3 separate regions of the Homo sapiens genome follow, and all the other regions are linked to region 1. The links come from fine-mapping of genetic effects on gene expression. A gene starts in region 1. Each other region holds a variant in brackets. All regions are shown on one strand. Distances are from middle to middle.

Region 1 (4,000 bases):
TCTTGTTGTGTCGTCCACGCTGGAGTGCAGTGGTGCAATCACAGCTCACTGTAGCCGCCACCTCCTGGCTTCAAGCGATTCTCCCACCTAAGCCTCCCAAGTAGCTGGGACTACAGGCGCATACCACCACGTCCTGCTAATTAAAAATATATAATATATAAATATATATATATATATTTTCTTTTTGTAGAGATGGGGTCCGTGTTGCCCAGGCTGGCCTAGAATTAGACTCAAGTGATCTCCTGCCTCAGCCTCCCAAAGTGCTGGGATTACAGGTGTGAACCACTGAACCCAGCCAGATTTCTGTGGTTTGTTTGTTTGAGATGGAGTCTCACTCTGTCACCCAGGCTAGAGTACAGTGGCACAATCTCAGCTCACTGCAACCTCGACCTCCTGGGTTCAAGCGATTCTTCTGCCTCAGCCTCCTGAGTAGCTAGGATTACAGATGCATGCCACCAGGCCCAGCTGATTTTTTGTATTTTTAGTAGAGATGGGGTTTCATCATGTTGGCCAGGCTGGTCTTGAACTCCTGACCTCAAGTGATCTACCCAACTTGGCCTCCCAAAGTGTTGGGATTACAGGCGCGAGCGAGCCATGGTGCCTGGCCTCAGCCAGATTTCATTTTAAAGGCTCATCCTGGCTGCTGAGGGGGCTGTCAGAGGGCAGGAGTGGAAGCCAGGAGACCATCTGGAGCCATTGCCCTCACTGTCCCTGTGACGTCAGGCCCCTCACCCCTCTAAACCTGTTTATTCACACATATGTGTGACTGTGAGAATCAAATTTGGAATGAGCAGAAATGCACTTTGCAAAGCTGAAAAGTACGCATAAATGCAGGGATTCCCGCCTTGCTAGAAGCGGAGAGTCCTTTGGAAATCTGCTGGGTTAGACCTCTCTGGGGTTCTTGGTTGGGACAGTGCTGGGCCTGAGTCCCTAACTGAACACCTCATATCCGAGAGAGCCCCCTTTCCCTGCCTAGGGTTATAGGAGAGGGCTCAGGGGCTGGGGAGGGGGGCACCTGGCTGAGGCTCCGAGTCTTGAGGGGGAAGATGGGAAAGAAGGGTCCCCTTCCTGGCTTCTGACTCCCCCTGGAGCAATGGTTCTCTTGTGTTGCAGGGAGGGCGACACCTTTGAGCACGGGGGTGACCACCGGACCACCCTGCAGCCATCCAAATGCACACACACAGCTCCTTTCATCCCGTGTCAGGGAGTTCTCTGAAATTTTCTGAAACTCATTCACGAACTCTGGCTTAAAGGCCTCTGAGCTAGAAAGGGGAACTGAAAGGGGACACCTACCTTTTTACCCCACCTTTTTTGTCTGGTCTTTCTAGCATTAACCCCCTAGACACACCTAAGGGCTGATGCCGGGGGGAACCTGTCTTGATTGCTCTGGGCCACATCGAGGGCACCTTCCTGATACTTTTGTTATCTGCCACTGGGGACCCGGTTGTTGAAGGGGGACTTAAGATTTTCTCGAAGGAGGGGTCACTGTGAGGGCCTTTCCTGCCTGCTAGGGGCTTCAGTTTGGGGGCCCCCACTCCCGACCTCCGGGGAAGGGAGGGGTCCCCATCTCCCCCGGGCCTCTCGGGTCTTGGGGTCTCCCCGGGAGGCCGGAGGTTGGGAACCGGGCGCCGGCGAACCGATCAGGCCCCGCCCGCGAAGGTGGTGCAACGCCTGGCCCGGCCCATCCCATCCCGGCCACCCGGGCAGCGGGACCAGGCGTCTGGGGCACAGCATGCGGGGCGTGTGGCCGCCCCCGGTGTCCGCCCTGCTGTCGGCGCTGGGGGTGAGGCGGGCGCGGCCTGGAGGGCGGGGGCGGGAGGCGGGCGGGACCCCTCCCCGCGCGGGCCGCTCCGTGGGCCGGTCTCGGTCTCGGGTGTCCAGGCCGGGGCGGGGCGCGGCGGCGGCGGCGCCAGGGTCGGGGCCGCTTCCCCATTCGGGCGCGAGAGCCATGGAGGCGCTGAGGGAGTCCGTGCTGCATTTGGCCTTGCAGATGTCGACGTACAAGCGGGCCACGCTGGACGAGGAGGACCTGGTGGACTCGCTCTCCGAGGGCGACGCATACCCCAACGGCCTGCAGGTAGGCGCCCTCCGCTCCCTCCCGAGGTCCAGGCGCCCCGGGCCCGGGCATGCGCGCTGCCGCTGCCGCGCCCCCCGCCCCTACCTACCCCGCCTCTTCCCCTCCCTTCCCCTCCCTCGTCCCGGCATCCGGGAGGGGCCGCGCCTCCCCGCAGCTGGAGCTCCGCGCTGAGAAGCCTTCCGGAGCCCACCAGTCTCCCCTCACCTGCCCCCGCCATCCCTAGAGCCTCCCGGCCACCTGCTTCTGGGGCCACAGCCCAGGTGGCAGAGTTGAAAGCACCCCCGAGACCCGAACTGGTCCAGTTCCCTTTCCACAGAAGGCACAGTTTGTGCATGTCCCGGGACTTGCCCAGGCCCTTTACCGGCAGAGTCTACGGCTGTTTCTGTTTTAGCGTGGAAAGCCCTGCATCCCTGGAACCCACTCCCCCAGTCCGGGGCAAACTGGGAAAGTTGGTCACCTTATCCGGGAGGCAGTACCACCCTCTTCCTCTTGCCCTCCCAATACCTGAGTTTCCTGGGGCCAGAAACCTGTTCTCTGCCCCCTCTCCCTGCCCCTTTTCCAGCCTACTAAGGAAGTCCAATTCCTCCCCTCCCCAGGGTCTCCGCCCGTGGGCATCCCATCTGCCCACTCCTGGGGAGGGCCCCACCCCCGTCCCTGCCTTGTAACAGGACATTGAGCAAGGCTGCTTTCTGCCCTCCCGTCCCTGGGGGGCTGCACTGGGACAGTTGTGGCCAAGACCTCAGTGCTGGAGGGGTTTGGAGCCAGCCAGGTGCGTGGGAAGGTGCTGGAAACGCTGCGGACACCCTAGGAGACCCAGTGATCTGGCTCTTGAGAAGCCAGTGTAGAAAGAGGAGCTGGGGCACCCCAATTCTCGGAGGACTTCTGCCAGGTAGACCAAGGGAAGTATTTGGGAGAATCTTGGGGCCACTTGGTGAACTGGCACACAACTCTTCCCAAAGGCGAGCTTAGGATGAATGGACGCTTAGTTGCCAGGCCCACTCCACTCAGATACGCCTCTTAGAAGCGGGAATAATCCTCCCAGCGCAGGGAGACACCATTGATGGAGTTCCTCCTCCAGGGTCACATAGGCCCAGGGGACCCAAACTCACAGTCCCAAGGGCTCTACCCACTGGGATGTGTGGTACCCCTGCTTAACCTTCAGGAACACCCCTGAGACCTGTAGGGATTACTGTCCCCACTTACAGATGTGGAAACTGAGGCTCTGAGAGGGGCAACCACTGGCCTTCGGTCACCGAGCTAAAAATCCGAGAGCGACACGTCAAACCCTGTCTGTCTCAAACCTCTTCCCAGTGGACTCTTCTTAAGAGGCTGAAGCCAGCAGGAAATTAGATTTCTGGGGCAGGTGCTTTTCCCTTCTCAAATCAAAACAGAATCTAATCAGCAATGTTTTTCAGTCTCATCTTCCACAGAAGGGTCTAAATATATCAACACAAAAGCATTTCAGAATTCACAGCAAAGTAATAATGCCATGTTGCTGTTATCCTCACAGCAGCCTGTTTGGGGTATAACCTTTTTCAGATGAAATAGCACATTTCTCTGGGGAGGGCCCCCGGCCAAGCAGGAGGAGCCCCGTCTCTGAAGCCAGCGACCCGGGTTTGAGTTCTTACTCCACTCACGACCTTGGGCTAGTGGCTTAATCTCTTTCAGTGGTGATGGCCTCACTGTGAAATGGATGTTAGAGAAAGTGGATGTCATACATATTATATGCAGCCTGCTAGGATTATTGTTTTATGACCCATGAAGTAAGGGCTGGCGTGGCCACATTATTGATGATAAAGGTGAGGGACAAAGAGAGGTTAGAGACATTCCTGGGGTCACGTCGCTGTTGTCTATGGTTGGAGTTAGTGTCCTGTCCCCAAATGGATACATTTTCCACTTTCCTTGCAGGAAAAGGCAAAGAGG
Region 2 (4,202 bases), 29 kb before region 1:
AGAAAGAATGGAGAAAGATAATAAGTGCATGACAAGCCTGGTGCCTGGCCCAACACACCGTAGGTGCTCATTCCATATTGATTACTTGTGAAGGCACCCATGGGCCACTGCACTGGAAATTGTCTTTCCTGTGGTCAGGCCTAGGTCCCCAACAGACCCTCTTCCAGGACATGGCTGCTGGGGGCCCCAGGGCTGCTCCTCCCAGTGGAGAATTCCTCTTATGTTATTCACACAGAGATTTCCCCAGGAAGTCTGAGCCCCTCTTTGTGTATCTTCCCAGCTGTTATCTGGGCCTCCTGAAGGCCTGCCTGGCTTTCTGGTTTATGTTAGGGTTGTTTATATGGGGTCTTATCTCTCCCAGGAGCAGGGGCCAGCCTGGGGAGCAGCAAGATTGTGGGCTTTGAGTCAGAGCAACCTGGGTTTGAGTCCCCAGCTCCGCCACGCACTAGCTCTGGGACCCTTGGCAAGTGACACCACCTCTTGGAACCTCGGTTTCCTCCTCTGTAAAGTGGGGATGGTAGTACCTCCAGCACAGGGTGATCATGAAGATTATGTGGGAAAATATCTGCGCGGTGCCTGGCATGGGTTAAATGATGAGTTACAGACAGCTCCTTTCCCCTTTTCCAAACCAGGAGGTTCTGCAGCAGCAGGATCCTAGAGGCTCAGACCCAGGGCAAGGGAAGACCATCACAGCTCCTCAAGGCACCACCTCGGCAGTAGGCAGGGGAGGCTGCACAGCCGAGCTCCACGCTGCTGGCAGCTCCCAGGACTCCATGGCCTAGAGGAGGCTGGGGACCTCAGGAACCCTCCGCAGAATGAAGGAAGGGTGGGGAAGAAAGACACAGAGATGAGGCTGCGGCCCCTATAGGAGCTTGGGTGAGTGTGGAAGATAAGAGCACAGGCTCTGGAACAGACACGTGCGTCCTTCAGGGAGCTGTGTGACCCCCTGTGAGTGACTCAACCTCTCTGAGCCTCAGTTCCCTGTCTATGCAAATGAAGGATGATGGCATACCATATCTCCTGGGGTTGCTGCGAGGCGTTGATAATACATGGAAAGTGCTTAGCACAGTCTGGCCAAGAATTTTCTACTTATTTTTAGGTTGTATTCTCAGGACCCACTGACTTCTGGCCAAACTCTTCAATTACTCATAAAACAGTATTAAATTTTTTTTAAAAAGCTTATTTCTCCAGCACCTTCCATGAGCCCTGCAGGCAACGTGCTTAGCGCCTACCTCTCATTATCCCATTTGATCGTAGCAGTCCTCTGTGGGGTTGGCCCTGTCACCATCCCCATTTTATAAATGAGAAGTCCGGTGACCTGTTTGAGCCCATACAGCTGTTGACGGCTGGAGCCTGGAGATAGTCGTGGGCGGGGTTAGTGTCTCACCAGGTATCAGCTGGACGCAGCAAACCTCAAACAGAATCCATGGGGAGAATCTGTGAATGAGCTTGTCCAACCTGCGGCCCGTGGGCCGCATGTGACCTGGGATGGCTTTGAATGCGGCTCACCACAGATTCATAAACTTTCTTAAAACATTCTGAGATTTATGCATGCACCTTTGTTTTTTAGCTGATCGGCTATCGTTGGTGTATTTTATGTGTGACCCAAGACAATATTTCTTACATTGTGGCCCAGGGAAGTCAAAAGATGGGACGCTGCTGCCGAGTGTAAACAGAAGATCTGGAGTGGGGTGGGGACACCTGTGGACTCAAGACAGCCTGGGTGGCGAGTGGTGTGTGGGGGCTGGCACTAGAAGCCATGGGACCGCGTGTGTTTGTTCAGCCTGTCTCAGCTGAACTAATGTAAACACCCAGACTGCTTGTTGGCCCTCTGGGGGACCAAGACAAACTAGGGAACAGTGAGCCGTGCCTCCCGGTGCCTGGTAGGGAGTGGCGAGAATGAGGAGCCAGGTCTCAGGAGAGGCTGAGGAGAGTTGGACAGGGATGGAGCCTGGCTTTCCTGCCCAGTTCACAGAGGGGAGGGCACAGCTGCTGGCTTGGAGGGCTCCCAGGAAGGCCAGGAGCAGAAAGTCTGAGAAGCAGATTGGGGGCAGCAGAGGGAGTCTGGCCCTTGGTGCCGGGGGTGCCCTGGTGGACAGAGGTGGGGGCAGCATGGAGCCGGCATTTATGGAGGCCCTAGTATGTACCAGGCCATTTAGACACGAGGTCTTATCATGTCTCTAGAAAAGCCCTG[C/T]GTAGTCCACTTTATGATTATGATTATGATTATGATTATGATTATTATTATTTTGAGACGGAGTCTCGCTCTGTCTCCCAGGCTGGAAAGCAGTGATGCGATCTCGGCTCACTGCAACCTCCACTTCCCGGGTTCAAGCGATTGTCCCACCTCAGCCTCCCAAGTAGCTGGGATTATAGACGCACACCACCACGCCTGGCTACTTTTTTGTATTTTAGTGGAGACGGGGTTTCACCATGTTGCCCAAGCTGGTCTCGAACTCCTAAGCTCAGGCAATCCACCCACCTTGGCTTCCCAAAGTGCTTGGATTACGAGCTTGAGCCACCGTGCCTGGCCTCACTTTATTATTTTGACTTAGCTGATGAGAAAACGGAGCCCGGGAGATTGTACAGACCCAGCTCCACTGAAAACCCACAGAATTTGGCTTCCTGGGAGGGTGAGTTTACGGAAGCATTTTCGGATAGTATTCCTTCGCATCTGCCTCTGCTGACGTCACATTTCCCATGCTGACTTTCTTCTGACCCTCGCTCAGCGTCTCCCCCGACAGAAGTGCGGCCTCTGGGGAGCTGTAGCTCTTGCTGCAAATCCCCTCCCCCGTCCGCTTTTTGGCACACTGCCTGGGGGCCTGGCCAGGCTGAAGTGACTGTCAGGTCGGGTTAGCTCCTTGGAAGGCTGGTGTGACCAACTCAGGGGTGTCGCCTGCCTCTCACCCAGGGAGGAGGATTTTGCCACCTCTGCTTGGATAGGCTTGTGAAGTGGGCCTCAGGAAGGCTCACTGGTTCTAAATCTTCAAAAAATGGGATTTTAGAAGTTGCTAAGGCCTGAAATATCACCCCACCCATTTTACAGATAGAGAAACTGAAGCCCAGAGCGGAGAAATGTCTGCCCCAAAGACAGTGAGAGGCTGAGGCACAAGGGAGGGGAGGTCTCCAGGGAGGACACCCCTAGGCCAGGCTGACCTTTGTTAAGGGAGTGGGACAGGGTCAGGAAAGGGCAGGGATGAAGGAAATAAGTTCCCCAACTGCGTCATGACCTGAAACCCAATTTCACAGCTGCTCCCACTCTGCTGCCCTCCCCAAGCTGTGCCCTGGAAATGTCCTTGGGCCCTCAGGAACGCTGATCAGTTCCTGCACATGCGCCAGCAGGGTACTTGTTTCATTGGGTTTGGGTCTCTGCGAGTCCACACGAGGGCCTCCTGCTCCCCACTTGCCACGCCAGGTCTTGCCCACTGCTCTCCCCCACCGTTTCCCTCACTCTTGTTCATCTCCGAGTCCAACAGCTATCACTTGAGTTGTGCAGAGCTGGGAAGAATCGTTTAACCGTCACAGCAGCCAGCGAGGGGACCTCGTCCATGCCGTCTGATACCTTCAAGGTGCACCTTGGAGGGGCAGGCCCTGCTTTGCATGTGTTTTGTCCCCACTTCGAGAAAGAGATCGCGGTGGCTCTGATTTAAGTTCAAGAACATTGGGGTCACACCCCGAGCCTGGATTTGAACCAGGAGACAGACACTGGCACCCCACACCTTCGGCCACACCTGCTAAAGCCAGGGACCTACAGAAGTCACATGACCTGTCTGAGCCTGCACAGCTCTTGACTGCCCTGACCCACTCGTGCGTCTCCAGAGGATCTGTTTGGATGCAAGGTGGTTAGGACCCCACCTTGAGTTGGGGAGCAGGGGCTCAGGAGAGGCCGAAGAGAACTGGGCAGGAATGGAACCGGGCTTTCCTGCCTAGCTCACAGAGGGGAGGGTGTGGCTGCCAGCCTGGAGGGGTCCCAAGAAGGCCAGGAACACAAAGTCTGAGAAGCGGGTGGGGAGCAGTAGAGGGGCTCCAGCCAGCCTGGGCCCATGACTCCATCCCGGTCAGGGGACCAAGATTGCTCAATCCCCAGAGCTGCAGATGCGTCACCAGCTCAGCGTCGCCGCGGGCTGGACTGGCCTTGTGACAAGCAAACCCTTTTCCCCATCTGAGGCCTGCGAGCTGGCCTTCCCCTCTGTCTGTTCATTTTG
Region 3 (4,202 bases), 50 kb before region 1:
CGGCTTTTAAACAAATCCAGCACTCACTTCTTTGCAGTGTGGCCAAGTTGTCCTTGGCCCCTGGGTTCCTAATGCGGCGCGTTTGCAGGGCGTGTGTGTGTGTGTGTGTGTGTGTGTGTGTGTGTGTGTGTATCTGTGTGTGTCTGTGTGTCTGTGTGATGTGTTTCCTGTTGTCCTCACTGAATCTCCCTGATGGTCACCAGCTCCCCACCCACGTCTCTAACCCCTTGGCAGGGAGTCAGTGCTGTTCTTAAGGGCCTCGGATGGACCGTCTCCCCCTGTTTTCTCCCAGTGCAAGCCGTGGGCCGAGGGTTCTGAGGAGGCTTTTTATGTCTCCTGCCTCCGGTTGTACTCAAACCACCCTGCAGCAGGCACAGAGAGGTGAAGGAGGTTGCCCAGGGTCACAGAGCAAGATAGTACCAGAACAGGCACAAACCTCCTGGACTTTTGGAGGGGTAACCTGGCAGACAGTTGGGGGAAGGAGACCCAACCCATCATCCCCCATCTGCAGCTGTGGCACCTTGAGAATGTTCCTTCACTTTCCAAGCTGGGGCTGAGTTGAGGCTACCGCTGAGGGTTGGGAATGCTCTTTACTATACAGCAGTTGAGTTGAGAACAGGGCCCAGGGTTTTGGTTTGAATCCTGATGTACTACCAGCTTGCTGTGTGACCTTGGGTCAGCCATTCCCCGGCTCTGTGCCCCCTTTCCTACAAAGTGGGGCAGATTTGCTCCACTTCTCCAGATATTGTGAGGGTACAATGTATGTAGAAACACTGTGGGAACTATTAAGAATGTGAGGGAGTCCGGGGGCAGTGGCTCACGCTTGTAGTCCCAGCATTTTGCGGGGGCGAGGCGAGAGGATCACTTGAGGCCGGGAGTTCAAGATCAGCCAGGGCAACATAGTGAGACCCTATCTTAAAAAAAAAAAAGGTAGGGAGAAGCGTTACTGTTTGAAGATAGGAGACTAACCACATGCCCCCACGTCACTCTGGTGCCTCTCAGCCACTCCAGATGGGGCTCCCAGAGCACAGTGCGTACTTCACCCTGGGCAGCCTGTGCCCCTGCTGGTGACTGGGCTACTGAGGCCTCCTTACATTGCTACACTCTTTTGGTAAACAAGGATGTTGTTACCTTTTGTTAAAGAATAAATACATTGTTTTCCCTGCAGAGTTGGGGAGGCCAGGGGAAGAACAGGATTTGAGGCATGAGAGGGCTACAAGGTGGGCTTGGCAGAATGTTCTGGGCGTTAGCCCAGAAAACCAGCTTGGCCAAGTCCACACTTTCATGTCTACGGTGAGAGAGGAACCATGAGCAAATGTTTACAATTTTTTGTGCTTCTGCTCAATTTTTTTCTCTCCAATTGACTGGGTAAGCCTCCTGCCATAGTCAAAGGGCTTCATTCATTTGTTCATTCACTCACTCACCAAACAAGTCTGTCTGGCACAACACGAGGCATGGGGGCCGTGGTCAGTGTGAGTGAGACTGATAGGTCTCTCTCTCCCACAGTCTGATGGACAGGCAGGCAGACAGATACAGAGCAGGAAATTACAAGCGCAATTACTGTTGTCAGGGAGACACGCGGGGGGCTGTGGGATTGGACCGGGAACCTGACCTGAGGATCAGAAAAGGCTCCCTGAGCACATGGCATTAAAATCATAACCTAAAGAGCGAGTGGGACTGGGAAGAGTGTTGGGGGGCGGGGGGTGGAGGGAGCAGAATGTGCAAGAGTACAGACCGCTGTGCCTTCAGGGATGGTTCATCTGGAGGCACGGAGGACTGTGCTTAGGAGGTGGCCC[G/CG]GAGGGTGCACTCAGGGATGGTCATATGAAGGACCTGGGGCTCAATCCTTAGGGCAGTGGGGAGCCACTCAGGAGTTTATTTTTTAAATTTAATTAATTTACTTATTTATTGAGACATAGTCTTGCTCTGTCACCCAGGCTGAGTGCAGTGGTGCAATCTCAGCTCACTGCAGCCTCAGCCTCCCTGGTTCAAGTGATTCTCCTCAGTCTCCCGAGTAGCTGGGATTACAGGCGTGCCACCATGCGACTAACTTCTGTATTTTTTTAGTAGACACCGGGTTTCGCCATGTTGCCCAGGCTGGTCTTGGACTGCTGACCTCAAGTGATCCACCCGCCTCAGCCTCCCACAGTGCTGGGATTACAGGTGTGAGCCACCGCACCCAGCCTACTGAGGAGTTTAGAGTCAGGGGAGTGACACGGTCGGATTTGCATTCTGAGATGGTCACAGGCTGCTTTGTGGTGATTGAGTAGAAGGAGTGAGGCCGAAGGCTGGGAAACCAGTGAGGAGGCACCTGAAGTGGCCCTGGGAGAAAGGTGGTGCTGCAGGCACCATCCAGTCCTCCTCTAGCCCAAACCACGCCCCTGGCATGCTGCCCAGAGCAGTCAGTGAAGACAGAAGGAGGCTGTGGCCCCAGACAGAGGTCCCAGACAGCCCCTTCTCCTGAATGTATTGACCCTTCCCCTCATCCTTTCAGGCAGATAACCAGCCGAGGGCCCTGGTCTCCAGAGCCTTTAATAGAGGAGAAAGAACAAGTTCCCAGATCGCTCTGAAATAAGGTAGAAAATGCTATGTGCCAACCTGGGGATGCAGCTCCAGAGTCATCCTGCCCATAGGTGTGTATCAGGGAAGCCTTCCCAGAAGAGGTGTTAACACTTGGTGGAATGCTTCCTAGACGCCAAGTTTTGGACACATAAAAAATTAGGAGGGGGGTTCACTTGTCCTTGAAGAGTTAATAGTCTGAGGGGCACAGTTTAATGAACAACCAGTGCTGGCGGAACCCCACTGTCAGGGTGGCACTGGAGTCCAGGACCTGGGGCCTGCCCTTTCCTTGGGCCCCTGAGGGCAGAGTGGCTGGGATGCCCCAGGCCTGTCTTGGTGGGCTGACAAGCCTAGGAATGGCTCCCTCCTCCCAACAGGGCCCCTTTGGACTTCCTGGGGGGAGGTGTAAACAGGGGAGCAAGTTTCTAGAGAGCATTCAGGAAATCGGCTAGGTGGGGATCTAACATCAGGGAGGTGGGCCTGGCTTCTGGGCCTTCTAAAGACGCTAGAGCGCTTGTATGAAAAGGGGATTAGGAACCACCAACTTCGAGGCCCCTGTTTGACAAGTGGGAAGACTGAGAGACAAAATGAGCATCTACTATGTGCCTGGCACTTAAATGTAATCTCTGCTCTTCACACCAACCCCAGGGAGGAGGGTGAGCCTTATTTCAGAGTTGTAAAAGCTGAGGCTCAAAGGTCACTTAGGGAATTAGGGACGGGAGCTAGACAGTGGCTCCCCGATTCCTCTAGATTATTATGGCTTCAGTCCCAAGCTGCCACTCAGTTTGGCAGAAACTTGGCCTTCCTGGGAAAGCCCACTGGGACAGGGATAGGACTGTTGAGCCGGTAGCCAGAGGCGTTGAGAGCTCACTGGGGCTGGACACTGGCCAGGCTCAAATGCTGGTTATTTATTGTTCACCTTTGCACCGCACTTGACAGTTAGACCTTTTCTTCCCCATTCACCGACTGTTCTTGGATTCCCACTGCCAATCAGTAGCAGAACTAGAACTTGAACTCAGGCCTTGTGACTCCCAGCCCAGTCCCCCGCCCTGAGATCCCCAGCTCCCCAGCTCAGATAACAGCCCCTCCCTGTCTGGCACCACCTGGTCCCCTGGCCTGGGTCTCCACTAACCCCCACCCCTAACACCTGATGTCCCAGCCTTTCTGACCACATAGCCCTCTAAGCAGGAGGAGCAGCCCCTGGCCCAGAAGCCTCCTCTCCCCATCCTCCTCCCACAGCTCCCTTCCCTCCTTGGCTGGGAAGGCAGGAGGGTGGGCCTGGGGCAGCAGCCAGGCAGAGTTAGGTTACAGCGTAAACACAGTCATGTCAATATTTACCTCTGCCTGGAAGCAGAGCCTCCCACCTCCCTGCCTGACTCCCTCCAGCTGCCCATCCAGCTGCACATGGCCCGCTCCCAGGCTCTGATCTGGTCATTGAAAGCAAGGCCAGGGTGGCTTCCAGCCCAGGCTCTGCCACTAATCCTTGTCCTCCTGAACCACGGTCTTCCTTCGTGGGCCTCAGTCTTCCCATCTGTGAAATGACATGGCTGGAGCAGACTGACTCCAGGGCCGTCTTCAGTAATGACATGCAGGATGACAAGTATAATACTCTCATTCAGAGGATAGACTCGAAGTTGTGCAAATCT

What was found. PIP is the estimated chance that this variant, and not a neighbour inherited with it, causes the effect. A credible set is the group of variants that fine-mapping cannot tell apart.
Region 2: its variant is the best candidate, but not a certain one, in a credible set for the expression of ECE1 in whole blood (INTERVAL, PIP 0.80).
Region 3: its variant is the best candidate, but not a certain one, in a credible set for the expression of ECE1 in whole blood (INTERVAL, PIP 0.65).

The regions. Positions count from the first base shown.
Region 1 is chr1:21,288,147-21,292,146 of GRCh38, reverse strand. It overlaps ECE1 (endothelin converting enzyme 1), which reads left to right and starts at 1,684. Exons shown (of 19, transcript NM_001397.3): 1 at 1,684-1,783; 2 at 1,991-2,077. The coding sequence starts at 1,733. RefSeq lists silencers at 1,603-1,782, 1,833-2,002 and an enhancer at 2,679-3,240.
Region 2 is chr1:21,317,391-21,321,592 of GRCh38, reverse strand. It overlaps a transcript of ECE1 not described here. Among named protein-coding and RNA genes, the nearest start is that of ECE1-AS1, 26 kb to the right of the region's middle. RefSeq lists a silencer at 1,288-1,527 and enhancers at 1,280-2,097, 2,916-3,733, 3,734-4,202. The variant C/T (reference allele first, on the strand shown) is at 2,195.
Region 3 is chr1:21,338,537-21,342,738 of GRCh38, reverse strand. It overlaps a transcript of ECE1 not described here. Among named protein-coding and RNA genes, the nearest start is that of ECE1-AS1, 47 kb to the right of the region's middle. RefSeq lists an enhancer at 3,296-4,202. The variant G/CG (reference allele first, on the strand shown) is at 1,797.